3 linked regions of the Homo sapiens genome follow. The protein of the gene in region 3 interacts with the protein of the main gene of each other region in a pairwise test. Each region holds a gene or a part of one and is shown on either strand. Other genes may lie near its edges.

Region 1 (7,987 bases), on a different chromosome or scaffold from region 3:
AGGCTACTGCTGAGGATGAGGAAACCCATGGAAACCTCTCCCGTATGTGGGGGCCCCATCAATATTCTGTCGACCTGGATTCTATCCCCACCTGCCACTAACAGGCTAGGTGACCTTGGGCAATTCTCAAACTCTCCGTGCCTGCATTTCCACATCTGCAAAATGGGGGTAACATGGTAGTGACCTCATGGCATTATCAACACATTAAAAGAATTTAAACCTGTAAAACTGGCAGAATAGTTCCTGGTGCAGAATAAGTGTCTGGCAAATGTCAGGGGAGACCAGCCCTGACTCTGCTGCCAGCACTGTGACTGCTGTCACCGCTGCACCCCAGCACCTCAGCACTCCATACACGTTCTCAGAACAGATTCTCATTTATAACCCAACTGTGTCACCACCCCTCAGAAGCCATGTCACCTGAAACAGGTGACATCGCCTCCCTGAACTCTGACCGTTAGCAACACGTTGCTGTTGTTCAGGTTAAGAGAGGTCTTACGTGAGAGACATCTGGCTCCAAGCACAGTGGAGTAAGAGGCACTGCCAGAAACTTCTGCATCCTGGAGGACTGTAACCTTCAGCCCAGTGACCTTGGGTATGTCCCATAAATGCTCTGAGGCTCAGTTCCCTCATTGTGACCTTAGAAGCCTTCTGGAAAATGATCCCAAGAGCCATAACCCTTGTACCCACACTCAGTCCCGGCGGGAAGTCCGGGATGGAAGGTCTGGCTGGACCCGAGAAGAGCATCCCTGCTGGCTGCCCCGCTTCGGACGCTTGCAGAGAGAGCAGACTCATCACCTTTCCGAGCTGCCTAGGCTACTCCTGGTCGACCTAATTAGTTGGTGAGGATTTCATACCTGCCTGAAACCCTCCTCCCTGTATAAACCAACTGTGCCAAATGGTTCTGGAATGGAACAGACTGAGGACAAGAGAGGAGGCTCAGGCCAAGTGAGGGGAATCACCTGATAGAGGTGCTGCCTCAGGACACGGAGTTCCTGGCACAGGCGCCACTGCTCCTCAGCCGAGCAGCTGGGGGCCCAGGCAGGAGGGGGTGTGGGGGCCTCGGGGCCAGGCCCCGCTAACTGGACGAGTCTGATGCCTAGACAGGGAGGGGTGGAGTGGAAGCTGAGGCCTCAGGCAGCCCTGCCCCTCCTGCAAAGCCTAGCCTGGACCATCAGTGGCCCAGAGTGGCACCACCGTGGCCTGGGGGGCACAGGTGTGGCCGGCTGATCCCCCTTTCTTGAACTGAAACCCCCGCTGCCAGCCTCTTCCCGGCTCCTGCCTCCCTCCCCAGACGACACACACAATAAAGCTGGGAGGACACCTTCACAGGGGTCAGGGCCCCCACCAGGACACCCCCACCCCACAACACCCACCCCGTCAGCAATCACCAACTTGCTGGAACGAAGACAGAGCCCTGGCTCAGAGCCCCTTCACCAGGGACTAAATGAGAAAATAAATAGAAAAGCACTTCCGGGAATTATTCGTGGCTGTGGTGGTTCGTAAGCGGCAGCAAGATGCTGAGAGTAGATGCTGTGTCTATGGTCTTAGATGTGAATTTTACAGTACAATTGCCTAGACATGCAAAGATCTATTTACATTTTTAAGTGTTAACTCTTGGAAATATTATTCTTAGCAAACAGAAACTACTTAATTGGATGCTACATTCAAAAAGAGGAGATTCTTTAAATTCAGCAGAAAACACTTTGGGGAAAGGTTGATGAATGGTTTTTCCCAGTGACACCAATACTGAGCGAGCCCGGGCACTTATTTGGAGATTTCACAAAAGGAACAAAGAGGAAGGAGACCCTGTGTGAGCGCGCACACCCTCCTGCACCTAGCGCCAGCCTGGCAGGGGCAGGCAGAAAGGGCGAGAACAATTCAGCCCTGGGGAGGGGCCATCTGACCAAGGAGAACGCTCCCCCGCCTCGGTGGGGCAAGTCGGGCTGAACTGCCACACCCGGGAAGGTACAGGGGCAGCCTCGCCCGCCCCTAGGCTCACCCCCGATCCAGAGCCCCTGGGGCCACGGGGCAAGGGAGGAGCAGGGCAGCTGCGGGGCCAGGGCCCTCTCGGATGAGGCTCCCAGGAAAAACGCGAAGGAATCTTGCCCCACCGCGTTCCACTGTCAGGACGAGAATATCATCTAAGGCAGGGCTCCCCTCCCCCGCCCAGCATCCCGCGATCCAGAATCCCGCGCGGGTACACTGTCCTCGCCGCGCTCCCTCCGGCCTCCCGAGCCCGCCCCCACTTCGCGTACCCAGCGCACGCGGCGCGTTTCTTTTGTTGCGCCCGCCGTGCGAGATTTGGGGGTGCACACCCGGCAACGTGGAGGGGCGTGGGGGGGCTTACCTTATCCGGGGGCGGGAACTGCAGCTGATTGACATCGAGGGGCGTCATCAGGGGAATGGTGTCGAAGCCATCCTCCAGCAGCGGCTGCTTGGTGCCCTTCTCTGCGAAATTGTTCCCCAACTTCACCATCGTTCCGGGAGCTCCGAGGCTGCAGCCTGCGGCGGGAGGGCCGGGGGGAGTCACCACAAGCAAGACCCGGGGCGGGGCGGGGGGGAAGTGGGCACCCACACCCACCGGCGTCCCGGCGTCCGCGAGCTCCCCGGCCCCGCTTCGTCTCGGGGAGGGCTCGTGGGGACGCGGTGGTCACGGCCCGATGCGGGGGTCGGGTGGTGCTGTGTATTTCTAGACCCTCATCTCGCAGGACCCAAGCGCCGGGCGCAAGGGCGCACCGCGGCCAGGGAAGGGGGCGCCGCCCCTGCCCAGCACCTCCAGACCCGGTCCCCGGTCCTGGGGCCGCCGCACCCGGGCGACCCGCTGTTCACAGCCCCGTCCCGCGTACTCCGGGAGATGGGCATCCCCCGGGCACTGCTCCTGGGCGGGCAAGGTCTGGCCTCGGCAAGCCCAGGCGCGGCCGGCCGCACTCACCCACGCCCGGCTCCGGCAGGTCAGCTGAGCGCTCCGAGCTCCGCGTCTCCTGCTCCTGCTCGCAGCAATGGCGGAGGCGGCGCCGCGCGCGGACCCGGGAAGGGGAGCGAACGATTGGGCTCCACGGCCGCTCCCTCCTCCTCGCGCCGCCGCCTCCCTTCCTGCCTCTCCCGGGGGCTGGGTGCGCGCGGGTGGGTGCGCGCGTGTGGCCGCGCCTCCACCTTGACGCAGCGCCCGCCCGGCCGCACAAAGGAGTGCGGGGCTGGGCGGGAGCCTCCCCTGGGACCACGCGCCCGCCCTGAGCCGGGGGAGGGAACAGGGGAGCGGGAGAGGACGCGCCCCCAGGGGGTCTCGGAGCGGCGGAGGGCGCCCGGAGCGGGAGGGCTGCGGGCTGCGCCACCCCGGGCGGCGGCCTGGGCGCGAGGCGCTTAGAAAGGAGAAAGGGGAGGCGGGGACCGTAGGGACAGAGCGACCCCCAGGGGTGCGGGGAGGTGCAGAGAGGGTCCCCGCCCGCAGCGCGCCGCGCTCACCTGGGGGTCCTGAGGACGTTCAAGGGTTTGGGGGGATGGGTCCAGGAGGCGCTGGGTGGTGGCGGAGACCAGAGCAGGGTGCTCCTTAGTGCTGGGTTGGGGAGGGGGCGACCAAAAGAGGGCGCGTCCGCGTATAAAGGGGGCGCGGCCCGTAAAGGAGGCGCGGCCCGTAAAGGAGGAGGAGGTTTTCGGTGGTGCGGGAGGCGGAGTAGCGCTCTCCCAGGGCTGGGGTGTGGGCGCCCAGGGTGAGGCTGCCCCAGGCAGCGGGAGGGAAGTCGTTCTAGGCAAAGAGCGCTCAGTGCGCCGCTTGGAGGGAGGCGGAAAGGTTCCTCCGCTCTGGTTGGCAGAGAAGGTGGAGGTCCCACTGCAGCCGCCGCCCGAGCATCCTGGGCACAGAGGAGGGGCCGCTGGGACGATGCCCGGACGCGGAGAGAAGGGGGGTGGTTCTAGCCCGACCTGCGCCCCCAAACCCCGAGCTCAGCCGCTGTCGCGGCTTCCCAGAGAGGGTCCTGTTTGCAGACCTCCAACCCGTCCTGCCTGCAGGACTCACGGATGAAAGACTATGGGGTGTGGGGGCGAGGCCGAAATGGGAGTGGAGCCCGCGCGGGAGGAGGCCGGCTGCGGGGATCGGTGCCTCCTGGGCACCTGGGCCAGGAGCTGGGCCCTGTCAGGCGCTGGACGAGGAGGAGGCATCACCCAAATTCGATACTTTTTCACACCCTTTCCGGGGACTTCCCCGCGGCACTACGGAGGGTCCGGGGCGTTTTCCATCAGCCGTCTGAGAATCCTGGGAATAAGCCCAGAGCACAGGAGCAGCCACCGCCTTGAGCCCCAGGCACAGCCTGGGAACTTGCCGCGGGTGCCCTGATTTCAAAATCCCCAGGAGGGCTAGCCGTCTTTGACAGGTGACCTAGTGGGTATCTCGTAACTCGCCCCAACTCTCCAGCCAGGGTCTAAGTGTGCCTTTGACCACAGGCCAGCCTGGTCTGAACCCAGGCTCCTGGCAGAGGCACCCCGCCCCCAACCCAGGGAAAGCGGGTGTCAGACTCTGGCCCCTGCCACGGGCCTCGGGGACCCACAGAACCCACCTTTTTGGCACTTTGATGCCTCCCTGAAGCAGGTGAAGAAGAGAAGATTTCTCTTGCTCCACTTCAGAAATCTGCCCAGGCATCTGCCATGAGAGTGACCCACTGGTCAGGAGAAACCCTTTGGGCTTAAGCAAGGAAATGGCTTTCCCGCACCCCCCCCCGCCCCGCCCCCCGTCTCAGGCTCAAGCATTTAACAGAACCCAACACACACGCGCGCGCGCAAACACACACACACACACACACACACACACACACACACTTGGTCAGAATTCCACACCAGGAGGAACAAAGTGGAGGCCCTGCCCCTCCCTTAGAGACTCTGTCAACTGAGGAGGACAGAAAGGCAAGAAGGACCTAGGTTGTCCCAGAGATGGACGGTGAACAATCATGTTTCTCTGCTAGCTGGCCTTTTGTGCTGTCTTGGGTCTTCACTGGTGCTGGTCATTGGGACTGTTTCATCCTGTGGTTTTCTTCCTCTGCTGATTGTATCTGGGCCCTGTGAAGGGCATGGACAATGCAAAATGCATGAGACACAGCGCCACCCGCAGGGAGCTACGGACAAGGGCAAGTCTTTGCTGGGAGCAGTGGCCCTGTGGGAGAGTGGCCTCTGCCTCTTGCCAGGAGGGAGGACATCCAGAGACTGTGGGTAAAGACTGTGGATAAAGCTTCCTACAGGTGGGCCTGAGAGAGGTGCGTGCAGAGGGGAAGGCATTCCAGGTAGGAGAACAGAATGTGTTAAGACAGTATATGAGCTTCCTGCCACTGTTGGAACAAATTTGGCTTAAAACAATAGAAACATGTTCTCTCCTGGCTTTGGAGGCCAGAAGTCTAAAGTCTAGGTCCCAGCAGGGCCTCACTCCCTCTACAAGCCACAGAGAAGAACCTGTTCTTTCCCCCTCCAGCTTCCAGTGGCTCCAGACATTCTTTGACTGTGGCTGCATCACTCCAATCTCTGCCTTCATGTCACTCCAGTCATATTGCCTCCTCCTCTTCTCTGTGTCTCTTATAAGGACACTCATCATAGGATTTAGGGCCTGCTGGGATAATCCAGGATAAGGTCTCCCTCTCAAAATCCTTAACTTAATCCTATCTTTGCCATATAAGATAATGTTCACTCTTTTACTATGTAAGGTAAATCAGGTTCCCGGGGTTAGCATGTGGACATATCTTTTAAGGGTCGCCATTCAGCTCACTACAGGCATTAAGCTTGCAAGGGTGTGGTGATTTGGAGAACCCAAGTCATTCACAGAGGGTGGCAGAAATTAGGTTGAAGAAGCCACAGCCACCAAAATGGGGATGGCTGAGGCTGCAATGGTGGTTGCAGGTCAAACAGATGTCAGGTATTTTCACAACATACAAAAAGGGAAAATCAATGGGATGCGATCTCCCCCTGGACCAGTTTCATCCCAGCACCAACAATTTAAAATCCAAGTGCCACAGAAGATTGTTGACACATACTCAGTTTTTCTAAATGACTCTTTTTTTTTTTTTTTTTTTGGGACGGAGTCTTGCTCCGTCGCCAGGCTGGAGTGCAGTGCCGTGATCTCAGCTTACTGCAACCTCCGCCTCCCTGGTGCAAGTGATTCTCCTGCCTCAGCTTCCTGAGTAGCTGGGATTACAGGCACGTGCCACCACTCCCAGCTAATTTTTGTATTTTTAGTAGAGACGGAGTTTCACCATATTGGTAAGGATGGTCCTGATCTCCTGACCTCGTGATCCACCTGCTTCAGCCTCCCAAAGTGTTGGAATTACAGGAGTGAGCCACTGCACCTGGCCCTAAATGACTCTTTTAGGAATACTTCCAGGGTTGCTGATCTCAGGCACAGACCCATCACTGCCTGTACGATTGTAACTCCTACCCTGCTCCCTCTCCTCAGGGCAGCCAGGCGCTGCTCTCTAATGACCCTGGTACTTCCAGGTCCAAGCGTTTTAGCAACTTCCCTTGTCCCACTGGTTGAAGTCCAGACTGTCACAGCAAGAGACAATGTGACACAGTGGCTAAGCCGTGGCCCGATTTTGAATCCTGTCCCTCTCTTCCTAGCAGTGTGACTTCAGGCAAGCTGCTTAACCTTTCTATGCTTCAGTTTCCCCATCTATAAATGGAGATAATGAAACCTCCATCAGAGCAGTGTTGTGAGAATCAAATGAGCTATTCTTATTTTTTTAAGTGCCTGTTTTAGGTATTACTATTGCTTTGACCTCTAATTCTGTACTCCTGTGGTCTCTATTCTTAGCAGCCGGTGCTGGAGCCAGGGCGAGGTGATAGACACTTTTCCTGGTTATGTGACAAGTGTTCAGAGTGACTAAGGTGACTCTTCCCCTAGAGGCCTCATGAGCCTCTTTGCAGGTCACAGAAGTCAAATGATGAGTCCCCGGCCACAGGCTTCCCTGCAGAGCTGGGATGGGTTGCAGGATCTAGTCAGGCCTCCCACAGCCAGCCAGATCTCCAGGATGGATGAGGTCCTGCTGGGAGGGTGGCCACCCAGTGCTGTCAGCCTATGGAGGTTCAGTGGCAGGTGATCAGCAGAGGTTCTGCTCTGTTTTTCTGCAGCCTGGCCACGTCGATCCAGCGATGCTTCATCCAAATGTCTTGTTTTTAGATTGAGATGTAATTCACATGCCACAGATATCACCAGTTTAAAGTATACGCTTAACTGGTTTTAGTATATTTACAAGGTTGTACAATCATCACCACTAATTTCAGAACATTTTCATCACCCCGTAAAGAAACCTGCATCCCACAACAGTCACTCCCTGCACACATCCTCATCTCTGATGGTTTTAAGTTTCTTGGGTCCACTTCTCAATCCACGGGACCAGCCGGCACGCTGGGACCAGCCGGCACACTGGGATCAGCCGGCACACTGACACAGAATCGGGAGAGACATTAGGCTCTGGATCTTTCTGCAAATGGGACAATCCATTTGCAATGTGAAGAATCAGCCCACCTGGGTGAAGTCATCCCTGTTTCTCCTTAAACCCTGTCCTGTAGCCAAATTCTCCATTCCCCCAAGTGCCTGCCTCCAGGCCTTTGCAAATGCTGCTTCTCTTGCCTAGATTGCCTTCCCCACTCCTCATCGATTTTGCAAACTGCTCCTCATCCTCCAAAGCCCAGATCCAATGTTGCCTCCTCTTTGAAGCTTGGCCTTTCTTTATGCTCCTCTATCCCGGAGTCTGGGTATTTACATTTCTATATAGATCATGAGCAAATCAGGCAGAACCACTTAATCTTTCATTTCCATATCCCCCCTGTCTAGAGCATGGCCTGGTAATCAGGAAATGTTTGCTTAATTGAATAGGCATCCACTTAGCTTACATTCACAGTAAAGTAAGACATGAACATCAGAGGTGTAAATTCGAATTCAAGTGCATAGTAAGAAAGTCAGGTCAGGCCTGGTGGCTCATCCCTTTAATCACAGCACTTTGGGAGGCTGAAG
Region 2 (6,867 bases), on a different chromosome or scaffold from region 3:
GGGCAGAGGCTGACCAGGCTGCAGTCATCAGAGGAGCAATAAAGGTCACTACGATATGGCTGGAGCCTCTGCCTTTCATCAGCTGAATGAAGGAACTGAATGGAGTTCCTTCTTGACCACTGTCCCATCTTCCTCTTACACACCCTGGATTCCAGGAACGAACCTGGGACCTGAGCTTGCAAGCTGAATCTTGTACTTTTCATGCCCTAAAGCTGTCATAATATGCTTTTTCCCGCCTCCTTCTATCCAAATCTTACCCACCTATCAAGGACTGTCTCTAGATCCACATTATTCATTTGCTAATTTATTCATTTGCCAAAAATAAGTACTTAATTTGTACAAAGCAATGTGCTAGTCATTGCGTGGAATACTAGGTAAATTGTGGGCAAGTCTTTTCTTTGTGATGCTTATAAGCCTAACATCGGAGAGCAAACAGATACCAAAATAATTCCAATATAAAATAAAAGAAAAAGAAAACCTGTTAGTACCCTAACACAGGTGAAACTAGATGCTTAGGAGTACAAAACAAAGAACAAAGAGTTGTACTGAAGCACATCAAAGGTTTTATTGAAAAGGTGACAATTGTGCCAGGACTTGAAGAACAGGTAGCACATGAGGACACAGATATGCAGAAAGAAACGAAAAGAACCACTGAAGTAAATAGAAGGGGGGAAAAAAGCTGCAAAGTGTGCGTGAAGAACACCAGATATGTTCAGTGTGATGAGAAATAGAGATTCATGAGATATGAGGTTAGAAAAGCAGCCTGCCAGCCAGGCGCGGTGGCTCACGTTTGTAATCCCAGCACTTTGGGAGGCAGAGGCAGGCAAATCACCTGAGGTCGGGAGTTTGAGACCAGCCTGACCAACATGGAGAAACCTCATCTGTACTGAAAATACAAAATTAGCCAGGCATGGTAGCACATGCCTGTAATCCCAGCTATTTGGGAGGCTGAGGCAGGAGAATCACTTGAACCCGGGAGGAGGAGGTTGCAGTGAGCTGAGATCGCACCATTGCACTCCAGCCTGGGCAACAAGAGCACAAGAGCAAAACTCTGTCTAAAAAAAAAAAAAGAAGAAAAGAAAAAGAAAGAAAGAAAGAAAAGCAGTCTGACTAATCACAGTGTCCCTTCTGGAAAACAACCCAGGGGGAAACCACAGCCTCTCCTGACCCCTCTTCTCTGGGACTTTCATATGCTTCTGTCTGTCCCTCGCCCTTTGTGCTCTAAATGGCAGACATTCAACAAATGTGTGTTGAATAATAAATTAATAAGCTATTCACTGCTAAGTGTTGCCATATAATATAACCCAAGGAAATTGTATGGTGTGTTCTAAGTCAAAACAGTTGCTTCAAAGTAATCATCTTTGTTCCTTAATGTTTGCAAAACTAATAAATAGAAACTATGATTTGTGAAAAGCAAAATAATGGTGATAATTCACATGTTAAAGGCATCTTGAGGTATGTGAACCATGTTTTATTTTATCTCACCAGTTACTTCGTTGAGAGTGAGCCAAAAGCAGATGTACTGGTGGAATTTAGAAGACCTGTGCTACTCCCAGTTTCCTCAACAGGCATTTCCACATTATTGGAAACTTCAGCAGAGGGGCCAGAGATGGCACAAGTTGGAACCGAATCTGGCAAAAGAAGAGATAAAGCAAATGATAAGTGCCTGGGAAACTTAGAATTCTTGAGACTCCAAACTGGAAATACTCAGCGGCTTTTAAAATGTTTAGCTAAATCATAGTAAAATTAAAATAGCAATAATAATATAACAATAATAGCTAGAATTTATTGAGTACTTACTATGTACCAGATACTGTGATGTCTTATCAATATAATTTCATTTAATTCTAATAACTAGCCTATGAATTAAGTATTATTAGAAACATTTAATAGATGAGGAAAGTGGGGCATAGAGTGGTGAGGCAACTCCAACTGTAAGTCTTAATTAGACTACCCCTCTGAATGAACAGATGCATTACCAATAGAGATCAGGACACTTAGCAGACACCAACGAGGCAGACATTTCCCTTCCTGGAGCCTAATCTCTGATACAAGAGCAGCTCAGAGCCCCTGGAATTTTATATATGTGCTGATTCTTACAGACTTTCAAGGATGCAAAAACATACACGGCCACATTTAAGTGTTCAATGGATCCACACACTGCAAGCTAACAAGCAATATGTTAAAATTCATGAAAGGTGTACTTTTATGCAGGCTGGGAAGGGAGAAAGAAATAAGTGGCACCTATATATTTAAGCTGTGTTGAAGAGGGCTGGGCTAGAGTTGTGGACGCGAGGAAGAAACAAGACAAAGCCATCCCTGTCCTTGGTGGCCCCCTAAACATTGGTTCAACAATTTTCTTTGGTCTGCCCACTGTTTAACAAGACAGAGGTGTTTCTTAGTGTTTTTTAGGCTTTTTCCTGAAACCTATGTGGAAGTGAGGAAATAATGGGCAAAATATCACTTATATCCTTAACCCTTTCCAGGAGATCATCTTGCAGATTGCAGATTTAGTAGCTATATGACCTTCGACAAGTAATTGTGAGTCTGTATCACCGTTGAGTGCGTGTCACTTTTCTGTACCTCAGCTTCTTCTGTAAAATCTGGATCAGAGAATGCCCACCACATTGGGTTGCTGTGAGGATTAAATGATATAATATACATATAATTAATATATATGTAATGTACTTAACACAATGCCTGGCATATAGTCAGCACTATGTAAATGTTAGGTATTATTATTATTATGTGTAGTATAGCCATGCAAATATTAACTATTTTAGTAATTATTCTCATTAAATGCCACTTACAAGAGGTCTGCAGAAAGTCTCCTGAAGCAGAGGTTATTGTATTTATACACTAACTTGCCCACAACTGTGCACATTTTCTAAGGCATTCGCGGGTAATTTTCTAATGTGTTCTTGCCTTTATGCATTTGTGCTTTTTTCTTGAACGTCATAATTTAATTTATTTTCTTCATCTTTCTTTCATCAAACCCATTTGGACTTCCTGACGGTAGGGTAAGGGAAAGAGTGAGGATTAAAACTACCCAATATTCAAAGAGGTGAGAAGGTTCTTCATTTGGGCAGTGCTCTACCAGCAAAGAGAAGCTCCTCACCTTGTGTCCCATCAGGGACAGAAAACATCTCTAATAGGGTGGCAGTGGAAGAAACACACATCATGACCATCTGCCTCTTCACTCATTTTAAAAATATGTACAGTCATGCACTGCCCAGTGATGTTGGAGTCAACGACAGATTCTATGTATGACGGTGGTTCCATAAGGTATTTTCACTGTACCTTTTCTATGTTTAGACACACAAATTCTTACTATTGTGTTCCAACTGCCAACAGTATTCAGGAGGGTAACATGCTGTACAGGTCTGTAGCCTAGAAGCAATAGGCTCTACCATATAGCTAGGTGTGTAGTAGGCTGAACCACCTTGGTTTGGGAAAGTACACGCTATGATGTTAGCAGGACGAAATCGCCTAACCACATATTTCTCAGAGTATCACATCCCCATCATAATGCGACGCCTAACTGTATATTGAACCAGCCTTCTACGACCAAAATATGGTCTGGGCAGAAAAAAGCTTTGAAGAAGCACTAAGGCAGAGAAGGTGCCCATCCTGGGGAGCCTCGGCAGGGCCCAGTGACCAGCCTTCCATGGCCCTGACAGCTGCCCTAACAGAAGCTCCAGCCTCACGGTGCAGGCAGGAACAAGCCTGGCGCGCCAGACAGCTCGGCCCCGCCCACTCGCCGCTCTCGGAAAGCTGGAACCCTGCCCCTTTGGAGGGGGAGGCGGCGGCGGCGGCGGCGGCTGCGCGGGCCTCGGGTGCGCGGGCACGCGGGACTCCCAGCTGTCAATCAGGCGCGGGCTGAGCTCTACGAGGCGGAGCGGCGGCGGTGGCGACGGCGATGGGACCCCAGCGAGAGATCTGCAGCTAGGCTGGCTGCACTTGCTCCACGGGTCAGGGGATCGGAGGGGGTAGGTAAAGCCACGCAGAGTCCAGGGGTGGCGGCTTTCTATTCTCCAAATGTCTTTCTCCAGTTCTCCCTCTCCTCCCTTTCTCTCTTTCCTTCCTCCTTCTTCATGCATAAATGTTCTTTCTCTCTCTCCCTCCCTCCTTCATTCACGTTTATTATATGTGCACCAATCTCCACAAAAAACATGCGTATTAAAATCGGTGAAAACATACAAATTAGGAAGAGCTAGCTCCATGCTTTGGTGGTTTGTGGTTTGTGTTATGTAAGAATTTGGGGGGTGGGGCACGAGGGGCGTACAGCTAAAAACTTTAGAGTTTCCTTTCCATAAGATAAGAAAAGTTGTGTATTAGGAAAGAGTCAAATATATGTATCTAGAGTTTGCAAAGTTGGTTTATTTATCAGGCTGAATTGAGCCCCCACTGGCCCTCCCCACTCCTGTGCCACGTCTGAAGATGTTTCAGTGTTTTGGCGTGATCTCAGGACCTACTTCTTTGTGTTGTTAGACAGGAACATTAGGGTGGGGGTCAGACAGAGTCTGGAGGCCTCAAAGAAAACAGAGCTGGAATTTAACAGCTAATGTTTGTTTGATTGGTTCCTGGCACTGTAACAGAAATGTTTTCAGAACCTTGGAGAGCTCCTTGGGCGCCACATCAGGCCAGCCTTTGGTGAAGGGCATGTGGGGAATCTTCAGCGAAAATGGAGAAGCTGACAGAAAAAAGAAGAGAAATGTAATTCAGAGAGGCAGAGAGAGACAGGAAAGAAAGAGATACAGATGGGGGTGGAGGGCAGGTGTTGGGGGAGGGAAGAAGAGGAGAATGTAGTGAATTTAGTGACCTATGATTGGCTTGTTTTCGTTTGCTTATCCAGATCCAGGAGGCTAATATAATTTGCTTCTTTCCCCCAAATCTGCCCACACACCACTCACAAAATTTGGGGGAAAGTAAATGGGTCTTGACGATTTGGCTTTGGTCCATATAGGCTGACCCTAGAAATGCTGAAAACAGTTTATCAGGCCTCAGCTAGGCTTACTCACCTCAAGTCTTCAGGTTCTCCTGCAAACAAATGGGGACCTGTTCATTAGAAAGAATTCTTAATGATCCCATAAAAAATATGGTCCCAGTTATTATCTTATTTCACATAACTAGAGTAATGTAGGAAACCAACAGCCTTATAGTTGGCAATGGCTTTTTAATCAAATTTTGCATGGGCACCTGCTTTTCTTAGGCAGCTGGAAAGCAAAATGATCATGATAGGAAGAAAACGGATATAGGAGTAAAACTCAGCCTAATAAGTAAATCATCCAAAGAGCCTTACGAAGTGTAAAATGTATGTAAACATATCAGAAAATATAGTGATTATAGGACTCATATATTTTACATTATAAGACCAAGCACCAAAAAAGATCCATTCTGAAGTATCTAGGAAGCAAGGAACTTTTTTAAATTTAGAATTTGTAAAATAGAAATGGACCAGCCTATTTGGAATTACTAACAACATGGAATATGGTTATGTAAAAATGAGAATAGCACATATATAGTGTGTTATAATTTACAAAGCCCTTTTATGTCATCTCATTCACTTTATAAATTATTATGAGAACCCATTGAAAAGTTCTAAAATACAGTTTAGACTTTTGTTTTTTAGAAAGCTATCTCAATTCTTAAACACGAATTTCTTTGTCAATGCTTTTGTGAACATTAAAATGATTCTTTATAAGTTATATGAATGACTTATGAAATTTAGATTTTGATCTGGATTACATTCTGCAGAGACTTTTTTCTTAAATAGGATTGAAGAATGCGCCATTAAAAGGAAAGATCAAGGAGTAAACCAGAAGAAGAAGAAAAAGAGGACTTCAAAGGTAGGACTCAAACCTTATCACATGTAGATTCATAAGCACCCTGTGTATGCATGTAGATAAAGAAGAGATTAAAAGAGAATATGGGTTCTTTTCTCATTTTAGCTTTGGATTTTATGTACCTTTCTAAAAAATGAATCTTGAAGAATTAAAGTAAATGATAACAAGTAAGATAATCTTACATTGTTACTCCTTTTTAAAAATTATAAAAGTGGTTGCATGTCCACTGACTTTGAAGGTATTTTAATAACTCAATATAAAGCCACAATCTCTACCACTGTTTCAGAAAAATAAAATATCTCTGAAATAATCCATTGGTAGGAACACGGTTCAGGATTTAAGAACATGCTTATATAATTTCAGAATGCCTGATTTAAAAGTGAAAAAGCTGTTAGCAGGCTTTCATGCCTTCCTGTATCCCCTATGAGTCTGACTGAATCTTTTAAGGAACTGACCTTTCGGCTTGGTGTTGAATAAGTGGTCTAAATTGTCTATGTGCCTGTACTTTGTCTTTTGCAGCACTGGCCCTGTGGAAAAGTGGCTATAATGGGAACCTCAGTCTCATTATCTCAGAATCATTTTATGGGAGAGAAAAGCAGCATGAAAAATTGAATGATATTTCAAAGAAAATAAATAGAACAGGGCCTGTGCCTGGCCTCACAACTGACTCACACATAGTGTCACAGGAAAACACTCATATTTGTTGCCTCTCTTCTCTCAAGGAGACCTTGAAGACAAAGAATATAATGTCTGTAATGTTCTTAGAGTTTCATGAGGCATAAAGATTTATTTCTGCTTCAAGGCTATGAACATTTATAAAGGAAAATAAAAAGTAACTGCATATATTACACAGAAATTTAAATTTCCAACACATTGATACTACAGTCTATTGGCACACATAGTGATATCACAATAGCACATTCATGAGCTTGTTTCCCTAATACAGGAATTATTCAAGGAATTCTCAGCATTTGTACTCCCTTTACCTCTTGATGATGCCCATTTTGTTATGTTTATTGCT
Region 3 (6,990 bases):
AGGCGTCATCCTGGAGCCTATTAAAGGACATGAAGGATACCAGCAGCTGGTCCCAGCCATCATGGTTGTGCCCTGACACTCAGGGCAAAGCCGCTGCCCCTTGTATTGTAAGTCCTGGGCTCACCAGGATTGACAAGGGGAGAAGCACACTCACCTCTAACCTGCCTGGATGTTCCCCACCAAGGGCTGAGGGACCCAGATGAAATGACTGAAGCTGAAGCTCCGGCCAGTGAGACAGGAACCAGCCACCTCCTTCCTCAGGGCTTCTTCTCCTAGGGGCAGGACAGCTGTTAACAGGAAACCTTAGCCACCCTCTAAATTTAGCCTCTGGCCCCATAGGCTGGCAGATTTCTGGGAGGAAGGAATGCAGGCTCTGGACCCAGGCCCCAAAGCAGTCCTCACTTAACTCTTTCCCTCCTGGCTGATTCTCCAGACGCTTACATTTAGCAGCAGAATTGGAAGACGTTTGTGCTTGGTAGATGGAGAATCTAAAGAACAGCTTTTCTCTGGGTTCTCTCTTCAGACCCTCTTGCCTGGGACAGCCTATTCAAAGTTCTTCCAGAAGAGAGTCTAAATCCAAAGATATAGAAGAATAAACAAACTTACCACAGCCGCATGTCAACTAGAGAGGCCTAAAAAAAGGACCAGATATATAGAATGGAAAGGGTACTCAACAGATAGATATTGGGAGAGCACTGTGGTACAATTAAAGAGTAGTCATTGCTTGTGACCAGGATTACATTTCTTTTTCTTTTTTTTTAGACAGGGTCTCGCTCTGTTGCCCTGGTGAAAGTGCAGTGGTGCCATCACAGCTCACTGCGGCCTCAACCTCTCAGGGTCAGGTGATTCTCCCACCTCAGCCTCCTGAGTAGCTGGGAGTACAGGCACATGCCACCACACCCAGATAATTTTTAAATTTTTTGTAGAGATGGGGTCTCACTGTGTTGCCCAGGCTGGTCTCGAGCTCCTGGGCTGAAGTGATCCATCCACCTCCGTCCACCAAAGTGCTGGGATTACAGGTGTGAGCCACCGTGCCCTGCCTGCATTTCTTTTAATAGACATGTCTCAGGATGGTCAACTGGACAGTTGTGCTCACCCTCCACATTTCCTCCCCTCTACTCACACCCCAAGGTGATAATGGATTGGCAACCCTGGGTGACTTAAGAATTCCATGAGCTTCATAAATGTCAAATAAGCTGTCTTACCCTACTAACCCCTCTACCATCACAATGATCAAAGCAAAGCCAAATAGCCCACACCTCTCATCCCACACATACCATAGTCATCCTTTCATCCATTTATCCATCCATTTACCAACTTAAAATATTCATTGATTACCTACTACATATGACACTTTACTTGACCAAAATTGGCAAAACACATAGCTTAAAGTTGTCTTTCTTCCTAGTTAGGTGGAATGATGCCTGGTATATCGTATCATTAGAAATGGCTGAATGAATGAGCTCACTGTTTATTAGGAGGAATGAGACACAGACCAAAAATAACTCAAGCATAAGAGAGAATGTAGTTAGTGTCCTAAAAGAGATCCAGAGTGCTGTGTGAGTTCAAAGGTGAGAAAGAGCCCTTCTGACTGAAGAAATCAGGAAAGACTTCATAGAAGCAGTGGTGATATATGAGCTGACTTCTAAAGGACAAGTAAGATTATAATAGCAGATATAGTAGGGGAAGGGAATTACCGAGGGGGTGGCATCAATAAAGTTTTGGGGGTAAGGAAGTATGAGTTCTGGGTATGAAAATATGTCTAACTTGGTCAGAGCATAAATTACGTATTCTGGAAGGTAGACTGTGTTTGAGAACAAATGCTAGAATACCTTAAAAGCTAATTTGTTAGGTTCTGCAGAGTCAGTGATAGGACCCAAGCAGACAAGTAATTAGGAAGACTAATTTGGCAAAGATATTATAAAATGTTGGGGCTGAACAATTATTACATATAATAAGAGAATTAACAAGGTGCCTGAGTGAAATGTAATAAACAGAAAACAACAAATTTTGTATGTCAACCAAACCTAGCAGTCAAAAGGATTAATAACAATAAGTCATGTAGGATACTATGAATTCATAACACAAAGAAATGCTAGGGGAAATATTTGCAATGCTTATCACATCCAAAAGTTCCTTTCCCTAATATACAAAGATCTGCTAGAAGTCAACAAGCTAAAGATCAACAGCTCAATAGAAATATGGCCAAACGGCTGGACGTGGTGGCTCATGCCTGTAATCCCAGCATTTTGGGAGACTGAGGCAGGATTGCTTGAGCCCAGGAATTCAAGACCAGCCTGGTCAACGTAGCGAGATTCTGTGTCTATATTTTTAAAAATTTATTAAAAAAAGAAATACGGGCAAATGAGCTACCTAGTCTCAGAAAAGAAAATATATATGATGTGCAACTATATTAAAAGATTTTCAATTTCACTAATAATTTTTTTTTTTGAGACAGAGTCTTGCTCTGTCGCCCAGGCTGGAGTGCAGTGGCACCATCTTGGCTCACTGCAAGCTCTGCCTCCCGAGTTCACCATTCTCCTGCCTCAGCCTCCCAAGTAGCTGGGATTACAGGCGCACACCACCACACCTGGCTAATGTTTTGTATTTTTAGTAGAGGCGGGGTTTCACCGTGTTAGCCAGGATGGCCTCGATCTCTTGACCTCGTGATCAGCCCACCTTGGCCTCTCAAAGTGCTGTGATTACAGGCGTGAGCCACCGCGCCTGGCCAAATTTCACTAATAATTTTAAAAAGTAAATTATATATACATGGGATATCATGTTCACTTAGATTGGCGATGAGCAGAAAGTTTGATAACTGTGTCATAAACACTTGGTAACTGTGTTAGTGAGTGTGTGGGGAGATAGGTATCCTTATATGCTGCTAATAGGAGTGTAGGCTGTAAAATTCTCATGGTAGCTAGTTTAGCAATATCTATAAAAATTACAAATATGCATAACTTTCAGTGAGTCAGAAATTTTACTTTTAAGAATTTATCTTACATGTATAATCACAACACGTGTGAAATATCGTACACATAATAGATATTGGTTGCAATCTTTTCATAGTTGTGAAAGATGAGGAAAAACAATCTTAAAAGTAGTTTGGTTAAATAAATCATGTCACTCATATACAGTGAAATATCATCCCCATTTTAAAAAGATGATGGTGGTGGTGCTATACATACCGATACAGAAAGCTTTCTAAAACCTTTCATTAAATGAAAAATGAATAAATCATTGCAGAACAGTGTATATATATCTAAAATATCTATGGAAGAAACCAGCAACAGCCACTGCTCCTGGAGAATTATGGTCCCACACCACTGATCATTCTTTCAGTAGGGTGACCATCATCCAAATTTGCTTGGGACTGAGGGGGTTCCTTTTGGTTTGAAAACCAGGACAGTCCTAGGAAAAGTGAGACAAGTTGGTCACATGTCCCCAAGATGATCTTCTTTCACTTATGAACTTGCTACTTTCCCAGTCAGAATATAAACTCTGAAGGGGGAGACTTCCTGTTTTCTTCATGACTATATCTCTTGCGCACTGTGGGGTGGAGGCTGTAGAAGAGGAGAGAAGTAGAGAAACAGATCACATTGTGTCTTGAAGTGTTTCAGCAAATATGGGCAACACCCTTCTTTTACTAGCTTGGAACCCTACCTCTGAGTGCATTTCCCTTTTTATTATTTATTTCCTGTCAGTTATAAGAGAGGCCTACCCCTTTGTGAGCAGTCTAGGACTTTGTACACTTGTTAAGTAGGGAGAAGGCAGGGGAGGTGGCTGGTTTAAGGGGAACTTGAGGGAAGTAGGGAAGACTCCTCTTGGGACCTTTGGAGTAGGTGACACATGAGCCCAGCCCCAGCTCACCTGCCAATCCAGCTGAGGAGCTCACCTGCCAATCCAGCTGAGGCTGGGCAGAGGTGGGTGAGAAGAGGGAAAATTGCAGGGACCTCCAGTTGGGCCAGGCCAGAAGCTGCTGTAGCTTTAACCAGACAGCTCAGACCTGTCTGGAGGCTGCCAGTGACAGGTTAGGTTTAGGGCAGAGAAGAAGCAAGACCATGGTGGGGAAGATGTGGCCTGTGTTGTGGACACTCTGTGCAGGTGAGTAGGCCCCTTTTCTCTCCAGTGCCCAGGGGTGGGTGAGACATGGGGACCTAGGGCTGAAGGAGAGGCTCTGTCAGAGCCTTCCCAGGAAGGGCCTCCAGCAACACAGCTGCGTTCCTGCTGGGCCAGAATTACACATTCCGGACCAGTGCCCAGAATCAGAATGGTTTTTATTTACATATTAGTAAATAACATTCTAGCCCACTGCTGAAATGAAGAATTCAAAGTACTCTCAAGACCATATTTTCTTATCCCAAATTAGATTATAGGATCAGACACAGGATTTGACAATGTGGACAAAGTATTTGAAATCGGAGTTGTCCTAGAAAATCCAGGATGTGTGGATCTAGATATGTTCATTATCTAGTATATTAACGTTTGTGTTAAAACCAGAGAAAGAGACAGGAAACTGAGGCAGAAGAGACAATGCAACTTATCCCGTATCATTCACAGAGCAAGAGAAGATTCAAACCCTAAAAACAAACAACAAACTAGATGGGTCTTTTCCAAAGGCCAAAGCTCCTTGCCACTTCTGGGACCCTGGTCATTGAAAATTCTGGGACTCTGAGCATTTCCCTCTGGGAGGGAAACCTCCCAGAACAAAATCAGACATTCATGAGTATATGGTTGAATCCACATCAAGTGCTTAATAGCACAGTGTTCTGTGGGGACCTATGGAGTGTCTAAGGGTTAGAATGAAAGTCTTGGCATTAAGGTACCAACCATTTTGCTGGGCATTGGAAGGAAATAGAATGGAGAGAAGGAAGTTGAGAGACGCAGGGTTTGGCAAAGTTTAGGAATATCTTTGGTTTAGTGTATTTGGCCATCACCTTGCAATTCAGACACTGTTGAGGGCTTCCAGGATCCAGCTGCAACGGGGAGGAGAAGAGCTATACCAGGAAACTCAGGAGCACCAAGCCTGGGGAAGTGGAAACCAGGAGACTGGTTTAGAGCTCACTTTTTAGCATACACAGGAAAGCCCCGGGCCACGGGGCCTACAGCTCATTCTGGTTCTCCCAGGCCCTAGACATGCTTTTCTCTCAACACCTGGCCTTGGGGCTCTCGAGGGAAGGGCAGCCTGCTGCTGGGGAAGGGCTGGATCACACGGTTTGGAGGAAGATCTGGGTAAGATCATTCTCTCAGGCTGGCTCAAGTTCATCTGACTGAAGGCAGAAAGCCCCTCATCATCCACCAAGATGGACTGGTTGGCTCATTCCTTTATCCAAACAACTCTTTACTGAGCACATAGTTTGTGCAGGTGCCATAGAAGTGAGGAGTCTGGAATGATTAGTCATAAGTGGGCCTATCTCAGCCATCAGATTCAGGCAGGGAGGATGCTCCAGGGCCTGAGAGAGGGAGGCTGAAGGAAATACCCATCCTTCCCTGGCTGGGCCAGTGATTCTCCCATCTTCTCCTGGTAAGCCAGAAGCTCCTCCATGCCTGCACCACCCCAACCCCCAACACATATCCCCACACTTGTAGACTGGCTGCGACCCATGCATGAATAAAAATAAGAAATTTTGGCTTAGAAAAACGATCTTAAAACAAGATGCTCACCCAGCTTGGAGGGAAAAGTGGCCGTAACTCTGAATTGCCTGGAGCAGGACATTTTGCTTCTTCCTATGAGAAGGCAAGTGACCCCTGGGGAACTCACCCAGCAGAACGAGTCTTGGGCATGTTTTCAGACACACTGATGAAGTGTCTTCTACCTCCGCCCCATCCCTCCCACCACAGCCTGCCCAGCACAGAATCACGTGCCCACCAACTTTTCTTCCTCCATATCTTACATTAAGAGGAAGAAGGGGCCAGAGCAGTGGGGCAGGAGAAGCCAGGCTTGGTGGTCGACTTGAGGTATATAAACAGAGTTTACCAAATAGTGAAATAGCCATTGCCACTGCAGGTGAGCAAGGAAGACCTTCAAAGGTCGACCAAAAGCAACCAGGCGGCCCTCCCCACCATGCCTCATGAGAGGATACCACCTCTTCCTTTGCGCAGGTAAGGGAGACCCAGTTAGGAGCAGGGACATTAGGAAAGGCTTCCTGGAGGAGGTGGAGCTTGACTTGGGTTCCAGAGGACTTACTGGGCTTTTCTCTTCTTTCTCTTCCCATCTGACCTTTCCGAGGAATTGATTCTGCTAAGACCTGGGCAGGGAAGCACTGCACTGATGAATGGGCCTCAAGACTCAAGTGGTGTTGGAGGAAGCAGAAGCTATTCATAAGGTTCCATGCAGGGGGCACAAACGCAAGGCCGTGCTTTTAAAGTAGGGAGTTTAAAAGCAATCATAAAACCGACTAAAAGTTGGTCTGCTTTGTGTGTGTGTGTGTGTGTGTGAGACAGAGTCTGGCTTGCTCAGGCTGGAGTGCAGTGGTGTGATCTCAGCTCACTGCAACCTCCGCCTCCCAGGTTCAAGAAATTCTCCTGCCTCAGCCTCCCTAGTAGCTGGGATTACAGGCATGCACCACCATGCCCAGCTAATTTTTTGTATTTTTAGTAGAGACAGGGTTTCACCATGCTGGCCAGACTGGTCTTGAACTCTTGACCTCGCAATAAGCCCGCCTCAGCCTCCCAAAGTGCTGGGATTACAGGTGTGAGCCACCGTTGGTCTGCTTTTTATGATTATCATGTGCTGACAATTCTAAACAGAGTCAGTGACAAAACAGACCTCCATGCCTGGGAAATGTTCCACCCGTCCCTCCTAACACTCCACTGCCATCCCAGGGGACCAAAGGGGGCTGACCCCAGTGCCTCTTAACTGACTATGGTGTGGGCAAATGGCTTCACTTTGCTAAAGTCTTCTTGCACAGTCTTCTAGTCTGAAATGGAGGGGTGTAAAATTCACACTGTGCCCCAACAGGGCTATTATAGGTACTAAATGAGTTTGCA

Evidence for each region. Proteins that work in one complex are often made in the same cells at the same time.
Region 1: the proteins of GPA33 (region 3) and NSG1 interact in binary tests that used the Homo sapiens proteins (3 or more experiments, as listed by UniProt).
Region 2: the proteins of GPA33 (region 3) and NRSN1 interact in binary tests that used the Homo sapiens proteins (3 or more experiments, as listed by UniProt).

Annotation. Positions count from the first base shown.
Region 1 is NC_000004.12:4,382,119-4,390,105, reverse strand, and holds the start of NSG1 (neuronal vesicle trafficking-associated protein 1), read right to left. Parts: upstream 3,005-7,987; 5' UTR 2,933-3,004; intron 2,503-2,932; 5' UTR 2,477-2,502; coding exon 2,348-2,476; intron 2,121-2,347; coding exon of another isoform or gene 2,000-2,120; intron 1-1,999.
Region 2 is NC_000006.12:24,122,352-24,129,218, forward strand, and holds the start of NRSN1 (neurensin-1), read left to right. Parts: upstream 1-3,863; 5' UTR 3,864-3,989; intron 3,990-5,776; 5' UTR 5,777-5,849; intron 5,850-6,867. UniProt on the Homo sapiens protein: May play an important role in neural organelle transport, and in transduction of nerve signals or in nerve growth. May play a role in neurite extension. May play a role in memory consolidation.
Region 3 is NC_000001.11:167,087,359-167,094,348, reverse strand, and holds the start of GPA33 (cell surface A33 antigen precursor), read left to right. Parts: upstream 1-3,971; 5' UTR 3,972-4,061; coding exon 4,062-4,104; intron 4,105-4,937; exon of another isoform or gene 4,938-5,026; intron 5,027-5,664; exon of another isoform or gene 5,665-5,749; intron 5,750-6,990. UniProt on the Homo sapiens protein: May play a role in cell-cell recognition and signaling.